Regions from separate parts of the Homo sapiens genome. Here all the other regions are linked to region 2. The links come from fine-mapping of genetic effects on gene expression. A gene starts in region 2. Each other region holds a variant in brackets. All regions are shown on one strand. Distances are from middle to middle.

Region 1 (8,188 bases), 31 kb before region 2:
CCAAGTGTAATGGGAATTCAATTAGATAATATATATAAAGTTTCTTTGTGAACTATAAATCACTAAATAAGTGTTATATGTGATAATTATCAGGCCTCTTTTTCACATAGGAAATGCCCCACCATATTTTTCAACAACTTCTTTCTTATTTCTTTGGCTCGAGCTCTGAAGATATAATAGCCCTAATGTAATACCTGAGCTTTTTTCCATCAGTAGCTTGACCAGCAGACTTCATTCCAAATAAACTGGGTCATCCCTTTTGGCTCTTGGAACACAACTCTAATTTAGTTATTTGGTTATAACTAACCAAATAACTTATTTCTTTCTTTCCTTCCTTTCTTCCTTTACTTTTTTTTTTTTTTTCTTGAGCCAGGGTCTTATTCTGTCACCCAGGCTGTAGCGCAGTGGCATGATCATGGCTCACTGTAGCCTCAACCTCTTGAGCTCAAGCAATCCCCCAATTTTTTTTTATGTTTTGAAGAGGCTGGGACTTGCTATGTTGCCCAGGCTGGTCTCAGACTCCTGGGCTCAAGCAACCTGTCCACCTCAGCCTCGCAATGTGCTGGGATTATAAACATGAGCCACACTGCCTGATATTGTTTGTTGTTGTTTTTCCAATTTTTTTTCTTTTCTTTTTGTTTTTTGAGACAGAGTTTTGCTCTTGTTGCCCAGGCTGGAGTGCATTGGCACAATCTCGGCTCACCACAACCTCTGCCTCCTGGGTGCAAGCGATTCTCCTGCCTCAGCCTCCCAAGTAGCTGGGATTACAGGCATACACTACCACGCCTGGCTAATTTTGTATTTTTAGTGGAGATGGGGTTTCTCCGTGTTGGTCAGGCTTGTGGGCAAAAGAAAGAGAGATCAGACTGTTACTGTTTCTACATAGAAAGAAGTAGACATAAGAGACTCCATTTTGTTCTGTACTAAGAAAAATTCTTCTGCCTTGAGATGCTGTGCTGGCAGAAACATGTGCTGTGTTGACTCAAGGTTTAATGGATTTAGGGCTATGCAGGATGTGCTTTGTTAAACAAATGCTTGAAGGCAGCATACTTGTTAAAAGTCATCACCACTCCCTAATCTCAAGTACCCAGGGACACAAAACACTGAGGAAGGCTGCAGGAACCTCTGCCTAGGAAAGCCAGGTATTGTCCAAGGTTTCTCCCCAGGTGATAGTCTGAAATATGGCTTCCTGGGAAGGGAAAGATCTGATCGTCCTGCAGCCCGACACCCATAAATGGTCTGTGCTGAGGAGGATTAGTGAAAGAGGAAGGCCTCTTTGCAGTTGAGATAAGAGGAAGGCATCTGTCTCCTGCTCCTCCCTGGGCAATGGAATGTCTCAGTGTAAAACCCGATCGTATATTCCATCTACTGAGATAGGAGAAAACTGCCTTAGGGCTGGAGGTGAGACATGCTGGTGGCAATACTGCTCTTTAATGCACCAAGATGTTTGTGTATGTGCACATCAAAGCACAACACCTTTTTCTTAACCTTGTTTATGATACAGAGACATTTGTTCACATGTTTTCCTGCTGACCCTCTCCCCACTATTACCCTATTGTCCTGCCACATCCCCCTCTCTGAGATGGTAGAGATAATGATCAATAAATACTGAGGGAACTCAGAAACTGGTGCCAGCGTGAGTCCTCCCTTTGCTGAGCGCTGGTCCCCTGGGCCCACTTTTCTTTCTCTATACTTTGTCTCTATGTCTCTTTCTTTTCTCAGTCTCTCATCCCACCCAAGGAGAAACACCCACAGGTGTGGAGGGGCAGGCCACCCCTTCAAGGCTGGTCTCAAACTCCCGACCTCAGGTGATCTGCCCACCTCAGCCTCACAAAGTGCTAGGATTACAGGCATGAGCCACCATTCCTGGCCCATTTTTCTAATTTCTACTTTGCATTATTGCTGGTCTTTTTCCCTCCGTTTGGACTAGAGTCTATTTTCAGAGCTCTTCTTCGTTTATCTAAACTGCTTCATGCCCAATTCAATTTCTACCTCCTTAATGAAATTTTTGCATTCTGTACCTTCTGTTAACTAGCCCCTAATAGTGCATAACAGCACACCCAGTCTTTATCATACAGATTAAGTTATGTACCATTCTACTATTGTTTCTTATGTGTACAGCTCCCAAAAGGGGCCAACTGAGTCTGCACCTCCTTTTGTGTTTTCCACAGGGCCTAGCATAGACCTTTCTTACTGTGGGTGCCTTTATTTATATGAGAGTGAGTCAAAGAAATAGTATCTTGAGCTATCTTTGGTCACTCCATCCAGCAGCCTGCATTGGTCAAGTTCAAAGATCCCATTGACAAACACAAGAGTTCTGATAAAACATGATGAGCAGGGGGACCCCACCCTCCCTCTCCCTTGGGAGGGGCATGCAGGCCCAACCCCCAAGTGTTACAGACCCCCGTTGTTATTTTTAAATTTAGAAAATAAAAAACCATGATGAGTTACGCATTGCTTTTTGAATGTCAATGCTAGCTTTAAAATTGAGCTTCTTAATATATTCTCAAAAAAGGCCCTAACACATGAAAATCAAATGACACACATTAAATGATAATATTTAATTGATTAAAGTCTAATAGAAAATTCAATACTTTTGAAAAGTGCCTCATGACCAGGCACAGTGGCTCATGCCTGTAATCCCAGCACTTTGGGAGGCCGAGGCAGGTGGATCACGAGGTCAAGAGATCGAGACCATCCTGGCCAACATGGTGAAACCCTGTCTCTACTAAAAATACAAAAATTAGTTGGGTGTGGTGGCACATGCCTGTAGTCCCAGCTACTTGGGAGGCGGAGGCTGGAGAATCAATTGAACCCAGGAGGCGGAAGTTGTAGTGAGCCGAGATCATGCCACTGCACTCCAGCCTGGTGACAGAGTGAGACTCTGTCTCAAAAAAAAAAAAAAAAAAAGAAAAGTGGTTCATGATAACACTCAAACATGTTGGCCTTTAAAAGACATAAACAACAGGCCGGGTGCAGTGGCTCATGCCTGTAATCCAGCACTTTGGGAGGCCCAGGCAGGCAGATCACTTGAAGCCAGGAGTTTGAGACCAGCCTGGCTAATATAGTGAAACCCCATCTCTACTAAAAATTCAAAAATTAGCTGGGTATGATGGCATGTGCCTATAGTCCCAGCTACTCGGGAGGCTGAGGCACAAGAATCACTTGAACCTGGGAGACAGAGGTTGCCGTGAGCCGAGATCACGCCACTGCACTCCAGCCTGGGTGACAGTGAGACTCTGTCTCAAAAAACAAAAAACAAACGAAAACACACACACACACACACACACAATAGTATTGCAACTAGAAAAGATTATTAATAATTATTTATGCATGTAGTGATTGGGCTGTGAGACCAAAAGTACTTGATAAATATAGGAAGTCATGATAAGTGAAAAGGACCTTTTGTTATCGTTATCTAGGTTTGTAGTTCTCAATTCCATGTGTTCATTCACAGATACTGCATGACATTGAAACAGCCGGTGTATTAACTAATGTATATGACAGTCCACCTCTGTATGATGATGTGAAAGTGCAATTTTTCTCTTCAGTGAGTAATCACAAAATAGCCTCTGCCATTGTTCTTGTCTGGTCTAATGATTTTATTTAAGATTTGCTTTACTACAATTCCAAACAAGGGAGGGGGAGGGGGAAGAAAACAATAAATTAGATCTATAACAAATTTTTTGAAAGAAAATATGTAATTTGAATAATTTTTGTTCATTTGTTTTTTTCTAAATTGTAAATTTTCTAAATTTTTCTAAATTTACATGTATTCTCAAATACAAAAAATACAAAATAAACACAAAAAAAGTAAAAGCCAAGATGCTAAAAAAAAAAAAACCCAAAGGTACGTTTTACTGCATAGCAATGATTACATTTTGTTTTGCATCTTTTTTAAAAAATTAAGAAGTTGAGACAGGGTCTCACTCTGTCACCCAGGCTGGAGTGCAGTGGCATGATCATAGCTAACTGTAGCTTCAACCTCCTGGGCTCAAGCAATCCTCCCACCTCAGCCTCCTTAGTAGCTGGGAGCACTGACTGGAAAGAGAGTTAGGTTTGGGCGACTCAGTTGGGTGAAACACAGAGAAGGCAGCACAATACAACACAAGAAATAACCAAAGCAGTTTTTTATTAATTCCAGAGAGAAGAGGGCAGCACACTTCGCAGGGGCAACTGGAAGAGGGAGCCATCCAGGAGACCTGTGCTTGACTGATGGGTGGGAGCAATAGCGAGAGA[C/G]AGGGAGGGACCTGAGAGTGGAAGCCTTTATTGGGATGTAAGGTGCGACCTGAGTAGGTTTCCTGCAGGGAGGTCTAATTTGGTTTAACGCAAGCAGCCATGAGTCTCTGCTGTGGCTGAGAGGTGGTCACTAATATATCCACGTGGTCCCTGCAGAGTATGGGGGTCTGTTGGGTGAGTCAAGTAGGTTATATCTAGCTGTCCCATAATGAAGGGGTCACCAGGAGAAGATTGTATAAGGCAGATATCAGGATCAGTCACATGGAGAAACTGGGAGGAGGTGAACTGGAAACTGCTGAGGGTGACTGAACCCCGCTTCTGATATCAGAAAAGTCCTGACATCAGAAAGTCCAGTTTATATTTAAAAGGGATGCTGAGGCAACAAAAAAATTATAAGAATTCACTACAATCTAGTTGGGTATATATAGGCATAGGTCCTTAGTAGAGTCTGTTTGGCACTATCTAAACCAGATTCAAATAGCAGCATTTAAATTAAATACCTATCATGGAAAAAATACTATTCCTTGAAAATTTTGATAGAAACAGTAAGAGAATGCAATAGCATTTTCTTAAAGCTTCCTCCTTTGTGTCTTGAGTGTATTGTTATAGATTGCAGAGTGCTACATATTTAATGGTTATAATTGTTTGATAAATATAAAAAGGAATAAAGGAAGGAACTTTAATTTCTTTGGAATGATTAGTTCTTGGTATCAGTTTTACTTTGAAATTTTTTTTAGAACCTTCCTAAGTACTGTGACAATTGTTCATTTTTCTTCTGGTTCAACACATCTTTTATTCAAAATAACAGGTATGAATATAATATAAACCCATAGAAACAGCCTAATCTTCAATGTCTATATACAAGGCATAATGGCAAGTCTTTTGCTGGTTGTCATAAACTTAATTTATAGAAAGCAAAAAATCCTTGAGCCACCATTGTTCATTGCCTTACTCCTCTTACTCTGGTTATTTTAAAAATACCTTTGTTCTTGAGACCCACTGTTGCAGTATCCTCAAGGTCCATGCCATAGAACTGTGTTATGAGTTCAAAAGTATTACAATCAGATCTTAAGTGTGGTAGTAAATTCCTCTTGGAGAAGTTCAATATGAGTCTGCTCAGCACCTTCAGTATGTCAGGTCCCTGTCAGTAGGTGCTGATTTACCAATGACGAACCACCACCAAATTTTGTGCTAAAGTAAGGCAGGACCTAGGGAGGCTTCAGCTAGATGAAAAGCTGACTGACACACTTATATCTAGGAGAAGTTACAAGACACAGTATTAAGGAATACAGCTAAAAAATATCATTAAGTAATAGTCTATTTAAATAGCCATTCAAATGTGGCTTTCTAATAACTGAATTGGGAAACCTTTCTGAAAAATTATTAATTGGGTTTGGAGATTATTGTTCCAAAAAAACCTTCTACCATATTTGGAAACTCATTTCTCAGTCTAGAAGTTCTCCACTATAAGTAGCATTTGTTTTGTGATGGTGAAAAATTGGGATTTTTTTTTGGTATCAACCATACTCTTCAATACAAAAGGACAAAATATTTTTTAAATGATTTAGGTCAGAATTGAAGAAGTGGCTATGATTATATGTGGCATGAATTGATAGTTATTGTTACATCCAGTCCTAATCTTTTCTTCAAATGTGAACTGGATCGAATAACTCCTTAAGTCCAGCAAGGCAACAGGAAATTAAACCTCTGGTCTACACACTTGCAATGCAAAACATTTAATGGATTTTGATAGAGTGAACTTTGGATTTGACGGAAATTTTTACAAGTTTTTTTTTTTTTGGATGCATACAAACAATAAGCTTTTTCTTCTAACATGAGCAAAGTCCCTCAAAAAGTGAGACCTGGATGTAACTTCACTTGATGCTGCTCCTCGAAAGTGGTTCTTGCTAAAGGATACAGTCTTTTTCCTTTAAAACACTATGTTCATTTTGGAGAAGTGATAAGCTAGATCACTTTTATTCTTACTTTTATATAAATTTCTAAAGATTTCTGTAACATTTACATTTACATACAACTTGGTAAAGCTGTTTTTGTTAGTTATAAGATTGTTGTTTAGCCAAAAATGCTAACTTGTATCATTTAGAACACTAGGCATAAATGGGTTAACCAATTTATGCCTAGTGTTCCATTATTGGAACGCTCAGCATGTGGGAGTTATGTCCTACTGCTCAAGGTCATTTCCAAGGTCTGATTGTAAAAATTCAAAAAATTGCAACTTCACACATAAATTGAAAGAGATATAGTATTTTATTCCTGGGTTTTCATTCATGTCTATCCTGACTGATTTCTGTCACAGAGAGAAATTTAGATATTTTATTAAACTTGGAAGTCATTAATGCCATATAAAGCAATGCTAAGAGAGTCAGCATGTGTTACTGATGTGTTGCTGAAGATTAAAGTATTTTTAAGTCTCACCAAAAAGGTGGAAGGAGCCAACCGAGACACAAAAAAGGAGCTGGGGTTCTATTCATGGTGAGTTTCTTTTTTTTGTTTCTTCCAGCTCTAACGTGGGTACCCAACTGCGTGGCTTTTCGGTGAGCCCCAATATAAAATGTAATAATTTTTTTTCTATTCTTAGGCTTTATCTACCAAGAAATGAATTGGATAATCCACATAAACAAAAAGCTTGGAAAATTTATCCACCAGAATTTGCCGTGGAGATACTTTTTGGTAAGAAATGACTTCCAGTGATGTTGTAGCTGGATCCGATTAAGTACAGCTCCCCCTTCCCCTTCTGGGAAAGAATTATGTTCTTTCCAACCTTGCCACATATTCATATATCCTAAATCTTCCTTGATGATATATTTATATATGTTTATATATGTTCTTCATAAGTCTACTAAATATATATAGATAAAATGTCAGTGTTTTTTTTTTCTTTTTTGAAGGCACATACTTCACAATTTCCATCTTGTATTTACATAAATTTGGAACACAGTATGCAGGAACATCAGACATCATTTTGAAGAACTTTGAAATAGAACTTTCATAGCAAAAACTTGAGATATTTAAAAATTGTAATTCCCCAACCCCCACTTACTTACATATTTTTGGTCAAGTATTTATTCCCTGCTTTGGTTCACATTTGTAATTTCAGATTTATTAGAAAGCTAATTTATATTTTTTCTTCCACTTCATTTACAAACTGTCTGTTAACAGACTGGCAACAAAGACTAAGTTTTAAATCCAGAAGAGAGAAGTGTTTCACACAAGCAGTCCCCCAACTCCCAACACACAGTCTCTCATTCTGAGCACTAACTAGGTAGCTTACTTGACAAGCTTCCTTTAATCACACACAGACATGGGGGTTGGGGTAAGAAGATTGTGGTAAATATGAAGATAAGTAATCTTTGGTAACTTCTGCTTTTGTTTAAAATTGTAAGTGAAGTCAAAAGAAATATTTGTTCTTAGAGTAATCTAGGTGTATTATTTTGAAATTCACTACTCCTGCTCACAATTCACCTAAGCTTGGGAGGACTCTGAAGGGAGGTTATCTTTTCATTATAAACACTGGTTAGCCTTATGTCTACAGGAAATCATTATTTCCTCTTTGGTGCTGGGTGCTACTTTTTTTTTAACAAATTTTTTATTTGTATTTTTTATTTCTTGAGACAGCATCTCACTCTGGTTGTCAAGACTGGAGTGCAGTGGTGTGATCTTGGTTCACTGCAGCCTCAACCTCCCAGGCTCAGTTGATTCTCCCACCTCAGCCTCCCGAGTAGCTGGGACTATAGGCGCATGCCAGCACACCCGGCTAATTTTTTGTATTTTTAGTAGAGACAAGGTTTTGCCGTTGTTGCCCAGGCTGAGCTCAAATTCCTGAACTCAAGCAATCTGCCTGCCTCAGTCTCCCAAAGTGCTGGTATTAAGGCATGAGCCACCACGCCCAGTCCGTGGGTGTTACTTTATTCAAAATACCTTTATTGCC
Region 2 (8,188 bases):
GGAGCCCCTGTGGAAGGGGCCCCATAGGTTGCAAATTAGCATTGATAGCCTGTAAGTCATGCAGAACTCTCCATTTACCAGACTTTATGGGAATGACAAAAAATGGGTGAATTCCAAGGGCTGTCTGCTGGTTCTATATGGCTGGCTTTTAATTGTTCCTCAATTAATTCATGGGTTTGTTGTAATTTCTCTCCCTTTAAAGGTCACCGTTCTACCCAAATTGGATCTTGAGACAGCCATGTCAGGGGTAGGGGAGGACTTACAACAGTGGCCACTATTAGAAAGGGCTCTGCATAGTGACCCCCCCATTGGGCTAATAAGGTCCCATTCCCAAAGATGAACAGGGATGGGCATGATTAGAGGTTGTATAGTTGCTTTTCTTCCCTCCAAATCGTGACTTTAGAGGGCGTGCACTCTGCTTGGCTGTGTGCACTTCTCCAGTGCCGACAATTTTCTGTTTCTGAGTGACCCATATGTTTTACCCAGCCAATTGATTCTGGTTGGTTTGTCATTCACACAACTCATCATATTCTGCCATCCAGAGGAGGTATTGACTGGCCTCTAAAGTTGTTTGAGCTAGCACTGACCTGTCCCATGGGATCATAAGGAAGTTGTCTGCTATGGCCTCAATTAATCCTTTTGTAGATGGGCTAGCAGCTCTGTTTTCTCTAATGCTTTTTCTTATCTCTTTATAGGTGTTGAAAGTGATGGGCTCATATACCTGATTGCCGTGTTGATCTTGCATCACAGGGCAGGCCAAGAGCTCCCCTTCTAATGCCACTTGCCTAAGACAGGGTCCCGTAACTGTAGTGTATCCCTTGTCTTTTTTTCCAATTTATTGGAGGAGGGGGCTCAGGGAAACTCTGTCTCCTCTGTGGCACCTTTACCTAGTAACAGTGGGGCTGAGGGAGGAGGAGGCGGTCAGGTAGGTGGATGGTTCCTCTTCCCTTTCCTTTTTAGGCTCTTTTGTGTAGAGTGGGGCCAAAGCAGCCCTGATTAAGGCCCATAACGTTAAAGATGTTACTGGGACCCGTTTCCCTTGTGCATGATGTTATTTAAGATTTCCCCTCACTTGCTCCCAGAGTTCTTGGTCTAACGTGCCTTCTTCTGGGAACCATGGGTTATTGAAAACAACAGTTTGCATTAGGCCCCTTAACTGAGCCTCCGAGACCCAGGCTCTGCTAGCTTTAAGCAGCTGTTTCAATACTTACATATAGTGTTGCTGTTGAGCTGATAACTGTTGTCCCATGATGAAACCCTAGGTTGAAAATTCCCTCAAACTTGGAAATCCTGAGTGGGCACCAATTACTTACTTCCCGCACAGTCTCTTCACCTCATTTTTGGGGGTTCCATCGTGATCTGTTGCAGCATTCCTCACACAGGGCACCAGTTGCTGGGTCTGTCCCACAGACCCTGGCTGGACGATGGATGAAACGAGTACTCAGACGCAGATATGCAGTGTAAGAGCAGCTAGGGGACTGCTTGGCACTAGCGGCCAAAGAGTGAGCAGGCAAACAGCTGGAGCTGCTTGCTTTTATTCAGTATAGACATAATGCTGAAAGCCTGGAGCAAAAACAATCTGTGGGTAATTAACATTATTGTTCCCCTTTCAGGGAACGGGTCACGCATGTGGATGATCAAAGGTCAGCTCCTGGTCAATGTAAGTAAACAAGCCTATTTACGATAAATTCCCCTATGCTTCCTGGTACCTACTCCTTGCCCTCTGCCTCAGGGTCAGAAAACAGCTGCCTTCAGCTTATTCTCCCTGGAGGCTATGCAGAGGCTTCCGACTTTTCAGAAGGTCTGCTCCTTTCCCTATAGTTTCTCCCACCACTCTGACTGATCTATAGGAATCATTCCTTGGCCAGGCTAGCCCTGATGTCCTCCCCCACTTTTTTTCTTTTTAAGAGTTGGCGGTTTCACTCTGTTGCCCTGGCTGTAGTCTCGTGGTGTGATCATAACCTTCAACTCCTGGGCTGAAGTGATCCTCCTGCCTCAGCCTCCCAAGTATGTAGGGCTACAGGTGCACACCATCATACCTGGCTAACGTTCAAACGTCTAGGCTCAAATTATCCGCTTCAGTCTCCCAAAGTGCTGGGATTACAGGTGTGAGCCACTGCACCTGACATGTCCTCTCTGGATAGAGTGGACACTTGCTACCATCAGACCAGCAATGAAAAGCTGTCAACTCTTTGTCACTCAGATCAACTTTGATTAAAAGAATTATTACCAGCCAAGCACAGTGGCTCATGCCTGTAATTCCAGCACTTTCAGAGGCCAAGGTGAGAGGACTGCTTGAGCCTACGAGTTAGAGACCAGCCTGGGCAACAGAGTGAGACCCCTGTCTCCAAAAAAATAAATAATGAAAAAGAATTATTTCCAAATAATTTGGGAATACAATAAGTATTATTCTGTGTCTGGCACAGCATTTGACAAGACCCACAGAGCTAGGCTTTGGTAGACAAGAGTTCACCAACAGTTAAATTCTTTATAAAGATGAAAACACCTCCTGTTCATTGACTTTTTACTATGTGGAGGTTTTTTGCTACTTTTTCATACATAGTCTTTCTTTTAATGTAATCTTCTTGACAGTCCTATGAAGGTCTCATTATTATCCACCCCTGTTTTGCAGATGAGAAGACTGGTTTCAGAAAAGTTGAGTGCTGAAGACTACAAAGCTGTTTGTAAGTTATCAAGCTAGGATTTGATCCCAGGTCTGCCTGATAAATCCTGGACTCTTAACCATGACATAGGAGTGCCCTCTTGACTCCTATGATGGCATAAAGAATTGTATCAGAACGGGTAATCTGGCATTAAAACCCCTGTGCCACAACCGTTAGTCTAATTTTTCTCTACAGCACCATCTGAAGATGCAACAAGGATAGGAACCACTGATAAGGTAGAACATTTTATTGTCTGGCAGAGTAGAAGATGGAAGTTCCTCCCCACTAGCCTTTCCACCTTGTAATGGATTTGAACCCTTGAAGCTTAGTGGGCAGTTTTGAGAATTACATGGGCTACAGGTGAAAACTTACACATTATAACCTTAATTTAACAGCCAGTTAAGACTTGAGTGTGGTAAAAGATTCATTTATTTATTCAATCAACAAACAATGTGGCACTACATACTATATTAAAATAAAAACATACGAATAAAATATAGGCACAAAAATAGAGGATATTGCGACTATCCTTAAAGATACACATTTTAGGAAGAATGATGAGACTTTTGGGCATGCTTTCAAGCCAAAGGGCTATCATAAATGAAAAGGAAGATTGTTTGGGTCCTTGTCTGGCATCTTAAGTAGCTGTGTGATCTCGGAAGTCTCGGGCTTTAGCTTCCTCACCCACAGTGAAAATTAAAAAGAAAAATTGGGCCGGGCGCGGTGGCTCACGCCTGTAATTCCAGCACTTTGGGAGGCCGAGGCGGGCGGATCACGAGGTCAGAAGATCAAGACCATCCTGGCTAACACGGTGAAACCCCTTCTCTACTAAAAATAAAAATAAAAAAATTAGCCAGGCGTGGTGGCGGGCGCCTGTAATCCCAGCTACTCGGGAGGCTGAGGCAGGAGAATGGCGTGAACCCGGCAGGCAGAGCTTGCAGTGAGCGGAGATCGCGCCATTGTACTCCAGCCTGGGCAACAGAGCGAGACTCCATCTCAAAAAATAAAAATTAAAAAAAGAAAAGAAAAATTGAAAAAAGAAGCAAAACCGAAATCTTGATTTAGAGAAGTAGACTCTTTTTGAAGTAGAAAGCAAAACAAATTTTGGAGGACCAAATTTCTGTGAAATAGTTTTGTCTTTAGCAGTCGTTTGTTTCAGTTATAACGGTTATAAATGGCACTTCATTTGATTTCTTTAAACATTTTACTTGGCCTGCTGTTTAATCAGACATGGAAGCCAGGTATGTAGTACTGTGGTAACTCACGGTGCTGTAACTTCCTAGATTAAAGGGCCGTGGCAGTTAAAACGAAACAAAACAAAAAAATTTCTTGAATTCTGCACTGTCAGTATTCAAACTAGTTTCAGAATCTAATGGACACACTCTGCCAAACCACCGATTAGCCATTTGAGGAGAGATGAAAGATGCCTATTTTTGGAGTGAATTCTCATAGGGTTATTTTCGTCTTACGAAATGGTGTAGCGGACTGCCCTTTTTCTCCTTTACTAAGTCACCTCAGCCAAAGCGGAAAACAAAGAAAAAAACCAAACCAAACCAAAAAAACGACAAAATAGACCGTACGCAAATAGAAAAAAAAAAAACAAAACCCAAAACACCTCCTTTAAGCGTCGGTTGGGCTCTATGTTAGCTTTGACTCTCCGTGCTCCCTGCTTTGCTGGGAACACGGAGATCCATCGCTCCGTTAGGCGTTCCCTTTAGTTTTCTAAGTGTGGGAGCCTGGGGCGACGTCCACCACGGAAGGTCTCTCCCGGAAACGGTTTTCCGCCCCGCCACGCCGCCCGCCTACGTCGACCACTGGCCCGCTGCTGGTCGGAAGGCGGCGCGCAGTCCATCCCCCGCCGGGCAACGCCCGTCGCTGTGGCGTCACTGGGAGTTGTAGTTTCACTGGGCTCAGCGGTGCCTGCGCTTTAGCGCAGACGCGCGGGTGAGATCCTCACTTCCCACAGGACCTCGGGACGGGGGCGGGGCTCCGACAGAGGCGGCGATTGTGGCGGCCCATTTGTAAATGCTGCGGAGATTGAGGTGTCGGTTCGTGCTGCTGAGCTGCCCAGGCTTCACGGAGCGGTAATTTGTGGGCGAAAAGAGCGGAGGAGCTCTTTGTCCGCCGCCCTGCGCCGGAGATGGACGGCGGTGGGCGGGCAGGACTCTGCTCGGACCTCGGGGTTGGCTCGGCGGGGCGAGGAGGGAGCGGGGCGCCGGGACGCGCTCAGGCCCACGGGCGCGCTGAGGCCCACGGCAGTTCAGTGGCTTCGTTCATTCGCGCTGCTTTGTTCTTCGCAGAGCTGGGGAAGCCGGCCTCTCTGGGGTGTCTGTCTCTCTGACCTGGCTGTGGCGGAACTTGAGTTCCTGTGGGCAGCGCGGCAGCCGCAGTCCGCTGGAGCAGGGTGGTGAAGTAGCGTTGCTGGCTGTCCTAAGGGCCGGTCTTGCCCCAGCTTTGTCAAGGGCTTCTCTCTTGAAGCTTCGTGTGGATTCATGGCTTTCAAGAACGTGTTGTATTTTAGGGGACTGCTAAATCACTTCCCAGACCAACTAGTTACTTCTCACGGTCTAAGAGTGGCTTTGAATTTGCTGTTTGTATCCACTCTCCTCCCTCACCGTGCAGAGAATTTATCTTTTTTTCAATACTGCTTTAAAGAATGTTTACATAGCACTTTCTGGAGATTTCAAGGCTGTCAGTTTGTTACATTTTTTAAAAGTTTTATTGAGGTATAATTGCTATACAATAAAAATGGCACATGTTTAAATGCATTCCATTTGATGAGTTTGACATACACGTGCACCCGTGTCCTTCAGATTTTGATATCTGTAAAGTCTGAGTCCACATACTAATCCTATCTCGGCATATATATTATCAATGCTCCCTTTACCAAGACCTCAGTATCAATAATAAGTAGCAGGTTCTGGTGACGCTTTTTTTATACTTCATGCTGACATTAAATATATTTTTAGAATCGCGGTCATGAAATTGAAGGTATAGAAGGTGTGTTTGGTGGGGAGTTGGAGGAGGAGATGCAAAAGTCTGGCTGCTGCATCCCAAGACTGCTTGCACTTGTCAGTCTAGTAGGGAATTTTTCTAGTTTTCCATATTATGAAATGACCTTGTAGTTTGTCTCCCTTCTGAATTTGGATTTCGAAAGATTTTCTGCTAAGGTCATTGAAATTAAGCAAAGTTACGTGGTTGATTTTGAAAAAAAAAAAGTCATTACTTTTTTAGATTGGTTTCCTACTGAAAAACAATTTGCTTAGAAAAAGTTTTTACAAATTATTCAGGAATAACAGATATCCAGTAAAGTGCGCTAATCTTAAGTGTACAGCCTAAGTGTATCCACCCCCTGTATTAACCTTCCCAGTTGTTGAAGTCAAAAATTTGGAGATGAATCTCTTAAGTTTAACGTTTTATTTGGGAAGAAAGAATGGCGGTTCCAGGCGTACAGACCAGGTGGTCTTCAGTATGTCCAAAGAACAAAGAGAAAGCTGGAGGTTTTATAAAAAAGAGAATTGTTATATCTGTCGCTCTTCGAGAAAGTTCATTGGTTCTCCTAAGGTTCTGGGGAGGCAGCAGGTCCTACCGAGTGGGCCATGGTGGAGGGCAAAATTAGTCCTACAATTGCAGCAAGTTACCTCAGCATCTATAGATCAAATTGGTCTCGGGTTACAACCGGCAGTTTCAGCATACTGACTTATAGAGAATTCCATTCTTGGAGCAAAGTTGTGTGTCCTGAGTGCCTTTCCCTCTTGACTTCTTGATTGTTTAGTTGGCTATAAGAATGACTCAATTTGTATGATCAACTTTCACACAGACAGGACAACTCCCATTTTCCTGGATAACGACCAATATGCCATTTATAACTATGGGTTTATTTTGCCTGTTCTTCAGCTTCATATACATGGAAACATGGGCCAGGTGCGGTGGCTCATGCCTGTAATCCCAGCATTTTGGGAGGCTAAGCCAGGTGGATCACTTGAGGTCAGGAGTTTGAGAACAACCTGACTAACATAGTGAAACCCCGTCTCTACTAAAAATACAAAAAAAAAAAAAAGCCAGGTATGGTGGTGCATGCTTGTAGTCCCAGCTACTCTGGAGGCTGAGGTGGGTGAATCGCTTGAACCCGGGAGGCTGAGGTTGCAGTGAGCCAAGATCACACCACTGCACTCTAGCCTGGGCAACAGAGTGAGACTCCATCTCAAAAAAAAAAAAAAAAAAAGGAATCATATTTGTCTGATGTTCACACATCATTATTTATTTTTGTTACTGCCTGTGGCAGCAATTTTTGTTTTTTTAAATGCCTGAATAGCTGTGGTTCTCAAAGTGTGATACAGTGAGAAAATGTACATCACATTGGCATTTTTGTTTTTGGTTATTAAATGGTTGGCAGGCAATCATCTTGTTCCAAGAAAATCTTCAGTTGCAATTAATGGTACAGTAAGCCTTTATACAACTCTTCTACAACTCAACCAGGGAGCGATGGCAAAAACACAGTATCATTATGTTCACTGTCTTCTATGTCTTTTAACAGTTCTATAAACTGGCAGTTGATAGCATTTGTACATACTGAACAATTGTAACAACTATATTCATGATACTATTCGTGGATTATGCTTCAGAAAACCAAACACAAGAATTTTCAATGTGTATTATACAGGGGAATGAATCAGCGAGGGAAACAGCAGTCTCTTGTTGTAAAATCCCATTAAATTCAGATTTTTTGCCTTATAGAATGACACCATCTGTCATGATAGAAACTGATTTTTAGGCTGGGCGCAGTGACTCACACCTGTAATACCAGCACTTTGGGAGGCCGAAGCAGGAGGATGGCTTGAGCCTAGGAGTTCAAGATCAGCCTGGGCAACATAGGGACACCCTGTTTCTACAAAAAAATTAAAAAATAAAAAATAAGCTGGGCATGGTGACACATACCTGTAGGCCCAGCTACTCTGGAGGCTGAGATGGGAGGATCACCTAAGCACTGGAGGTTGAAGCTGCCGTGAGCCGTGATTGTGCCAATGCACTTCAGCCTGGGTGACATTGTGAGACCCTGTCTCAGAAAAAAAGAAAAAAAGTAATGTTTTCATATCTAGCTAAAATTCTTCTGTCAGACATAAAATACTGGGCGCAGGGGCTCACGCCTGTAATCCCAGCACTTTGGGAAGCCAAGGTGGGAGAATGGCTTGAGCCCAGGAGTTTGAGACCAGCATGGGCAACACAGGGGGACCACTCTTTACAAAAAATTAAAAGATGAGCTGGGTGTTGTGGTATATGCCTATGGTCCTGGCTACTCCGGAGGCTTGAGGTGGGAGGATCACTGGGGCCTGGGTGGTAGAGGCTCCACTGAGCCGTGATCATGCCACTGCACTCCAGCCTGGGTGACAGTGAGACCCTGTCTCAAGGAAAAAAAAAAAGATTAAAAAATATCCATGTCACAGGTTCAGTATCAGGCTTTGAATTGATATCATCTCTTTGTAAATTTAGATAATCTGTGAGATAAAACACACCTAAATTGGTGA
Region 3 (8,188 bases), 38 kb after region 2:
TCCTCTGCTCTGTAATGGTCAGAGGAGATGGTTCAGGTAACCTTGCCTACTGTGTCCTAACTTGAATGAATGTTTGTCAAAAGGGGCGCGCGTGCGTGTGTGTGCACACGCGCAGTGATTCCTAGATAACAGCTTGTTTGCTTTGGCCTGTTGTATAAATGAAAACAATATGAATAAACAAAACCCACAGCATTCTTAGCACTAGCTGAGTTTTATTAGTTTCACTTAGTGTATTAATAGACTAACACTCATTTTAAATAAAAAATTATCTCTTATACTATAGAACACATCTGTTCGATTTCAAAACAGTCAGATTTCTTCAGGAACCCAGGTAGAAAAATACAAGAAAAATTATCTTCCAATGCAAGGTAAGAGGCTGCATGATCTTTTTATAAAACATTTCAGAATGTAAGGAATAAACAATTTATACCCAACTTAATAAAACATTTCTTAATAAATGTTTTTGAACATTTGAATGAATTTGAATTAATAAATGTAATTGAAGCTCCTGTGCATCATCTTATTCCGCCAGTTAATTTCTACCCTGATAATGGTCCATGCTTCGGTTTTAAATTATTTTACCTTGTTGCGTTCATAAATTGTTATACTGGTCGAGCATCCCAAATCTGAAACTTTTTGAGGGCAAGCATGATGCTCAAAGGAAACATTCATTGGAGCATTTTGAATGTGGATTAAGGATGCTCAACCAATAAGTATTTGCAAATATTCCAAAACTTGAAAAAAAAATGGAGATCTGCAATACTGCTCCCAAGCATTTCTGATAAGGGACACTCACCCTGTAGTATTGTTTCATATTCTGTGTGTCCTTCTGCAATTTTTTTCTTTCAATACTGTATGACTTACCAATCTTAACACATAAAACCTCCAGTTGATTGATTTTAATAGCTATGTAGATTGCATTGTATACTTCCACAGTTCAGCATTCCTGGTGATGGGCAATTAGGTTTGCATGATAATGAATAGGGCTGCAGAGCGTGTCTTGATCCTGTGGCTTCTCTAGGATATATATGAAGAGTAAGATGCCAGGCCATGTCAGCTGGAGGTTTTCCCTTTGCTCTGCAACATGGTTGTACCAGTTTTTTTTACTGTCAGCAGAGTATGCTCTTCATACTTGCAAACACTTGATCTGGCCAGACTTTAACATTTTGGCCAGTTGATGTAAAATGGTGGTTGATTCCGTGAGCTGGTAAGGCCCTGTGAGCATGTTTTCTTACATTTAGTCAGCATTTGAGGTTCCCCTTTTGTGAACTGCCTGTTCATTTCCTTTGTCCATTTAAAATTTTGGATGTGTGTGTGTGTGTTTCTCCTTATAAAATATTCCGCATAGTAATCCTTTGTCAGTTACAAGCACTGCTAATATTTTCTCCCAATCTGGGTTTGGCTTTTCAGTTTGTGTTTTTTTTAATGTATGTTTTTCCTTGTAATGTTGAATTTACTAGTCTTTTAAAATAGTTTTTGGTTTTCATGACTTTAATTCTTCTCAATCCTCAGGCCACAAGTACACCATTTTCTTCTATGCGCTTTTGCATTCACATCTTGAGTTTTTAATCTGGAATTTTAAAAAATTATTTTTGTGAAATAAATTTAGTAAAGATATATGCAGTTTGACAATTAGAAAGCAAATACTCGGGTTACCACCACCTACGTAAAGACATAGATGAGTGGCAGCCCGGAACTGCCCTCTGTGGAGCCCGTGGCTTTTCTTGATGGCACTCTCATTTTCTCATGCTCTGCTTTACTGCGCCTCACACAAACTGTGGTTTTTGGAGACAGAAGACTTGCAGCAACTCTGCACTGAGCAAGTCTGTTGGTGCCATTTTTCCAACAGCATGTGCTCACTTTGGTAGTATACCTTAGCAGTCCCCAACCTTTTTGGCATCAGGGACCAATTTTGTGGAAGACAATTTTTCCATGGACTGGGGTAAGGGGCATGGCTTTGGGATGATTCAGCACCACATTAAATTTATTGTGCACTTTAATTCTAATATTATTACATTGTAATGTATAATGAAATAATTATACAACTCACCATAATGTAGAATCAGGGGGAGCCCTGAGCTTGTTTTCCTGCAATTAGATGGTCCCATCTGGGGGTGATGGGAGACAGTGACAGATCATCAGGCATTAGATACTCTAAGGAGCGTGCAACCTGGATCCCTCGCATATGCAGTTCACAATAGGGTTCTTGCTCCTATGAGAATCTAATGCCACTGCTGATCTGACAGGAGGTGGAGCTCAGGTGGTAATGCGAGTGATGGGGAGCTGCTGTAAATACAGATGAAGCTTCGCTGGCTCGCCCACCCGCTGCTCATCTCCTGCTGTGTGGCCCAGTTCCTACAGGCCACAGACCAGTATACCGTGGGGTTTGGGGCCCCCTGGTATAAGTGGTATACTTATAATCTACATAAATTGCAAATCAGTATCTTCTCCTAGTTCATGGCTTGTCTTTTTGCTCTTTATAGTATCTTTTGATGAACCTAAATTCTTAAAGTAGTTCAATTTCAGTTTTTCCCTTTGGGCAGTGCTTCTTAATTCTTTCCCTATCTTGGGGTCATAAACATCCCTCCCCTAGTATCTACCCAGCTATTCCAGCACTGTGTATTCCCTAGCTTCCACTGTCCCCAGTTTTCCTGTTGTAGGTATTTTTAAGGTGGGTTCACACAGTCCTCTAGACAGTGTGCTTGCACCTGGAGCCTGTCTATGCCCACGGTCACCTCTCGTTATCCTGCCCAGTTGGTAGATACTTTGGGGGTTCAAGTTAATGTTAGTTCATAATCAGCCTGGGAAGAATTAAACTTGATATATAGTGGGTTTGAATCCTGGTTCTGCCTTTTATTAGTTGACAACCTTAGTAGGTTATTTAACCACTTAGCCTTGGTTTTCTTGCCATAAAATGGGAATAATATTCTAGTCTTTTCTCTAAAGGTGGTTATGAGAAATGATGTCACACAGCTTTAGTTATAGTTTAGTTTGCACACATAACCTGTGGGGGTGAAGCATGACATTCTTGTGTCATCCCAAACAGAGCACTCCTGCTATCCCCAGAGCCTTGTCTGCCATCTGCCCCTTTGCTCAAGCCTAAACCCCTGTGTACTCCCAGTACTTTTTCTGTTATCCTTCACCATCCACTCCCAGTAGTCCCTAGACTGATCCCTCTGATGTTATTTTCTGGATCTATTAGTTACATTGAATCATATGAAATTGCTGATGTGTGGCAGTTTGGGACCTATAAATCAGTGATTTCCCATGGTGTAATGGAACCATTCCTGTCTCACAGGCACAGCACAGCCGCCTCACACGCCCAGCAGCTTGTTGGCTGACCACCTGCCTCCGCTCTCCTCCTTCAGGCCATTCTCCCGTAACATCCAGCTC[T/C]GTTACACTTTTTAACATGGAGGTCAGATTCTGGCACTTGCTCGAGACCCTTCCAAGTTGAGTGTTTACAATATGATCCATTGGCACATAGGATGAAAATACTGGCACTTCAGTGTATTTTTAGAGAGAGATTCACCTCACTTTGTTGTTGGTGGGGGCGTGTTTATTTTGTAATGTATATGTTGCTGGTACAGTATGTGATTGGTGTGCTGGACATATTACAAAAAGTTTATACCATAGCCACAAGGGCATTTATGTTTTAACTAAATACCCAGTTATTTGGTGAAGCCAAATTCCACAGGTCTTAGATGCCTCTTTTATCTGCACCTTACACCTTGTGATTGTCTCTGAAATACATTTGGGTCTGTCAGGCTGTTTCATCACCTGTCTCTTCCCCAGGATTGTAAACTCTGAGACAAGATACTGTCTTTCTTGGACATCTAGGACTTAAGTACCTGTGTCGGAGAACTACAAATTAGTAAAGAAAAATATTAAGACATCCTTAACTAATGGATAAAGGACAGCAGTTCACAGGATATGAACTAAGGAAATGTGTGATCATACTAATAAAATTTTCAATTAAATATTAAATCTAACTCTTGACAATTTTATTCTAATAGGCAATCCACCTCGAAGATCCAAGTCTGCACCTCCTCGTGATTTAGGCAATTTGGATAAGGGACAAGTAAATCTCTGTTTTTATATATTCTTCAAACATACATTACTTAGGCTTGAAATCAATTTGTTAATAGACTTAACGTTTCTAAACCACGTGTAAAAAAGAGTTTTTACTTAACATTATAAATGTTATATTTTGTAAACACTAGTCCTAGAACCCTATATCAGAATCTGGCTTTGGAAGTAAGAGTAGGTTTTAGCTGCTTGAAATGTGTTGTGCTTACAGGCTGCCTCTCCCAGGGAGCCACTTGAACCACTGAACTTCCCAGATCCTGAATATAAAGAGGAGGAGGAAGACCAAGACATACAGGGAGAAATCAGTCATCCTGATGGAAAGGTTAAAAAATGTTTTTGAAATAATGAATTCTATAAAAAATAAACATGGGTTAAAATAGTTGAAACACATAGAATCTAAAATAAGGGCTCTTTGGACAAGATGCCTTTAGTTGCCATTTCTCGTTCAGAGATTCAGCAAAAGGCGGCATACAATCTCTGTATGATCTTTGTTCTTACTCCAAAGCCTTTGTAATCCTTGGCACTTCTTAAAAGCTTCTGTTCATTCTAGGTCTTCCTTTCTTGCAGCCTTTCTTATACTGATCCTGAGTCAGGGACCTCTCTCCTCATCTCCAGCTAGCACAGTTTTATTCTTATGCTTAGGAAAGTTTCTTAGTGGGAAAACTGCCTGGGGGTTCCAGCTAAAGGGAATGAGGAAGAAAGGGATATATACAGGTTAGAGGTGATGAGGGAATTTTTTCCTCAGGTTTATGGAAAATTTACTTTTCGAATACCTAATCTGGTCCATTTCTATTGAAATTATAGGGTTGGAGTGCTATCCTTGAGGAATGAGAGAAGGACAAAGAACAACAGGCAAAGCAGTAGTTAGACTTTCCTGTACAAAGTCTACTTTAGGGTAACAAATTGTTGATAAGGGAAGGTTTTCTTTTTTAGGTAAATTCCAGCTAATACATGGAAAAGGAATGAGAAAATTAGAAAATCACGAGTTTGCTACTCCTCACGAAATAAAGGATCTTTTGAGGGAATGTTTTACATTTTATTACAAAAAATTTCAAAGTAGGCAGTTGGGAGGAGAATTAGCCATACTTTCGTCAGGAGAAAATCTTAGGTGATAATCTTGTGTTGGTTTTTTAGGTGGAAAAGGTTTATAAGAATGGGTGCCGTGTTATACTGTTTCCCAATGGAACTCGAAAGGAAGTGAGTGCAGATGGGAAGACCATCACTGTCACTTTCTTTAATGGTGACGTGAAGCAGGTCATGCCAGACCAAAGAGTGGTATGTTTCCAGAGGTGTTCTCCTCCATAGTTTAACCATCTCTGGAGAAAAGGCAGACTGACTGTGTGTCTTTACAGATCTACTACTATGCAGCTGCCCAGACCACTCACACGACATACCCGGAGGGACTGGAAGTCTTACATTTCTCAAGTGGACAAATAGGTACAAACTTGCTCCACCCTCTCATTAAATTCTTCCCTTCCTTCAAAAAATATTTACTGTAACAACTTTTTAAACAGAAAAACATTACCCAGATGGAAGAAAAGAAATCACGTTTCCTGACCAGACTGTTAAAAACTTATTTCCTGATGGACAAGAAGAAAGCATTTTCCCAGATGGTACAATTGTCAGAGTACAACGGTATGGCAACATTATGTTCACAGAAAAACCACTCAGTGTGACACCTGTTCATCTGTGCTCAGAAGGTGCCCCAGCCTTGCGTTTCTGATGATATGTGACACCCATATTAGGGGGTTCAGTTTGAATGAATGTCCCACAGGCATGTCAGTCAACTTGATGTGAATTATTTTTCACATTCTCCTTTTTTGTTCCATTCTTTCAAAACAGATTTTTAAGTCTGATCATGCCCCTTCCCAGGAATAACTAACTCTCTTCCCCACCTGATACAGAGCAAACAAACACTCAGATGGTTTTTAAATTAGTGAAAGAAGGGTCCCTTTTAATATAACAACCAAAAGGAAGAACACAAGTTGAAAAAAGTTACTAAGCATTTTGTGATGAAAATATGAATGATTAAAACAATGCTAATCTGATAATTGGAACTATCACCATGAAGCAGAAACACTGTAGAAAGTTACAATTGTATAGGGATAACCAAGGGATGTCTCCAGAAGTAGCTGCCAGACTCAAAAGGCTACTTTTCAGTAGTTTTTCTGTTGTTTATTTTCTATTATTTTTTTTTTAAGAAATCATATTTTTTTTAAATTTTACAGTGATGGCAACAAACTCATAGAGTTTAATAATGGCCAAAGAGAACTACATACTGCCCAGTTCAAGAGACGGGAATACCCAGATGGCACTGTTAAAACCGTATATGCAAACGGTCATCAAGAAACGAAGTACAGATCCGGTCGGATAAGAGTTAAGGACAAGGAGGGTAATGTGCTAATGGACACGGAGCTGTGACGATCCTCATGTGATCATGAAGTAACAGTAACTGACTTTTTATGTTAAAAAATGTACATTTACTGTGGATTCTGTTTAATTTATTGTGTATGTGTGGGGAAAAGATTAGATTCTAAAATAAAAGTTTACCCTGTGGCATCTTCATTTTTATATTCTTTGAAATGCAATGATAGCTCTCATTTATAATTCACTACCCTGTCTTTCAATAGACTAAGGAAAGCATTTTGACTGTTTAGAAATTGTGTACAGGTTTTTACAGTAAGTGGGTGTGTTTATTGGTTAGAAATGGCTATAAAAAAAAACCAAGAAGTACAGGAAGTACATCACCTAGATGTCCCACAGACACATCAGCCGTAGAGCACTGGACTTGTACAGAAGGTGTACTCAAGGAGTAAACACGTGTCTCTGTAGCCAAAATATTACTATGTTCAGTTAGTACCAAAATTAGACCATTTGATCTTCTACAGAGGATCATTAATTATTATAACAGAATGGGAAGTTACAACAGTGGATGAATATAAATAGGTCACACACAACAGGTAGTAATCATGGTGAAGAGAAAGCAGTTATAACAAGGCTGACTTTGTAATGTAATGTCTCAAAATGGGATACTTGAGAGTGGAGGGGGGCATGAACGATGACTAGCCAGTGTTAACCCATGGACCACAGCTACCCTGATGTTACCACAGTGAGATTACTGTAGCCTCATGGAAGCAAGATGTCCCTGAAGGATGGGCAAGTCACTTACTTACTTACTTGTAAATTTATATAATAAATAATTACAGATTGGTCTAGATAGACCTTACCTGTCACATATACTATGAATCAGGTTTTGTTAATGAAATCTATCAATTCCAGGTGACTTAACTGAATATGAAAAATAAAACTTTTTGAAGAATATAAGTACAGATGTATCTATATATAGATGTATCTATATATCTATCTATATAGATGTATCTATATCTATCTATATAGATGTATCTATATATCTATATAGATGTATCTATCTATATAGATGTATCTATCTATATAGATGTATCTATCTATATAGATGTATCTATATATCTATATAGATGTATCTATATATATAGATGTATCTATATATCTATATAGATGTATCTATATATCTATATAGATGTATCTATATATCTATATAGATGTATCTATATATCTATATAGATGTATCTATATATCTAGATGTATCTATATATCTAGATGTATCTATATATCTATATAGATGTATCTATATATCTATATAGATGTATCTATATATCTATATAGATGTATCTATATATCTATATAGATGTATCTATATATCTATATAGATGTATCTATATATCTATATAGATGTATCTATATAGATAGATATCTAGATATATAGAGACGGGGTTTCACCATGTTGGCCAGGCTGGTCTCAAACTCCTGACCTCAAGTGATCTAGATAATCTAGATAGATATATCTGTATACCTAGATAATCTATATAGATATCTATAATCTAGATAGATATATATAGGTTATCTAGATATATCTATCTAGATATATCTCTAGATTATAGATAGCTATGTAATCTAGATAGATATATCTATATATCCTTACCTCTCCTGAGATATCTCTAGAATATACCTATATATAGATATCTACAGATACATAGATGATATATTCTAGAGATATCTCAGGAGA

Which allele goes with the higher level. Alleles are on the strand shown, and positions count from the first base shown. SD is a standard deviation of normalised expression in the study named. Not every link is listed here.
With allele T in place of C in region 3, the expression in fibroblasts of the gene that starts at base 4,647 in region 2 is higher (small effect, 0.26 SD a copy in GTEx).

Evidence for each region.
Region 1: its variant is fine-mapped to the expression of CPAP in prefrontal cortex (ROSMAP, PIP 0.95).
Region 3: its variant is fine-mapped to the expression of CPAP in fibroblasts (GTEx, PIP above 0.99).

What each region holds. Positions count from the first base shown.
Region 1 is chr13:24,950,139-24,958,326 of GRCh38, reverse strand. It overlaps the pseudogene TPTE2P1. Among named protein-coding and RNA genes, the nearest start is that of CPAP, 31 kb to the right of the region's middle. RefSeq lists an enhancer at 691-1,270. The variant C/G (reference allele first, on the strand shown) is at 4,240.
Region 2 is chr13:24,919,320-24,927,507 of GRCh38, reverse strand. It overlaps CPAP (centrosome assembly and centriole elongation protein), which reads left to right and starts at 4,647. Exons shown (of 17, transcript NM_018451.5): 1 at 4,647-4,747. RefSeq lists enhancers at 3,700-4,601, 4,602-5,503.
Region 3 is chr13:24,881,496-24,889,683 of GRCh38, reverse strand. CPAP (centrosome assembly and centriole elongation protein) reads left to right here. Exons shown (of 17, transcript NM_018451.5): 11 at 284-368; 12 at 4,014-4,078; 13 at 4,298-4,408; 14 at 5,221-5,361; 15 at 5,439-5,523; 16 at 5,601-5,721; 17 at 6,315-7,405. The coding sequence ends at 6,507. It also overlaps a transcript of RNF17 not described here. Among named protein-coding and RNA genes, the nearest start is that of CPAP, 37 kb to the left of the region's middle. The variant T/C (reference allele first, on the strand shown) is at 3,394.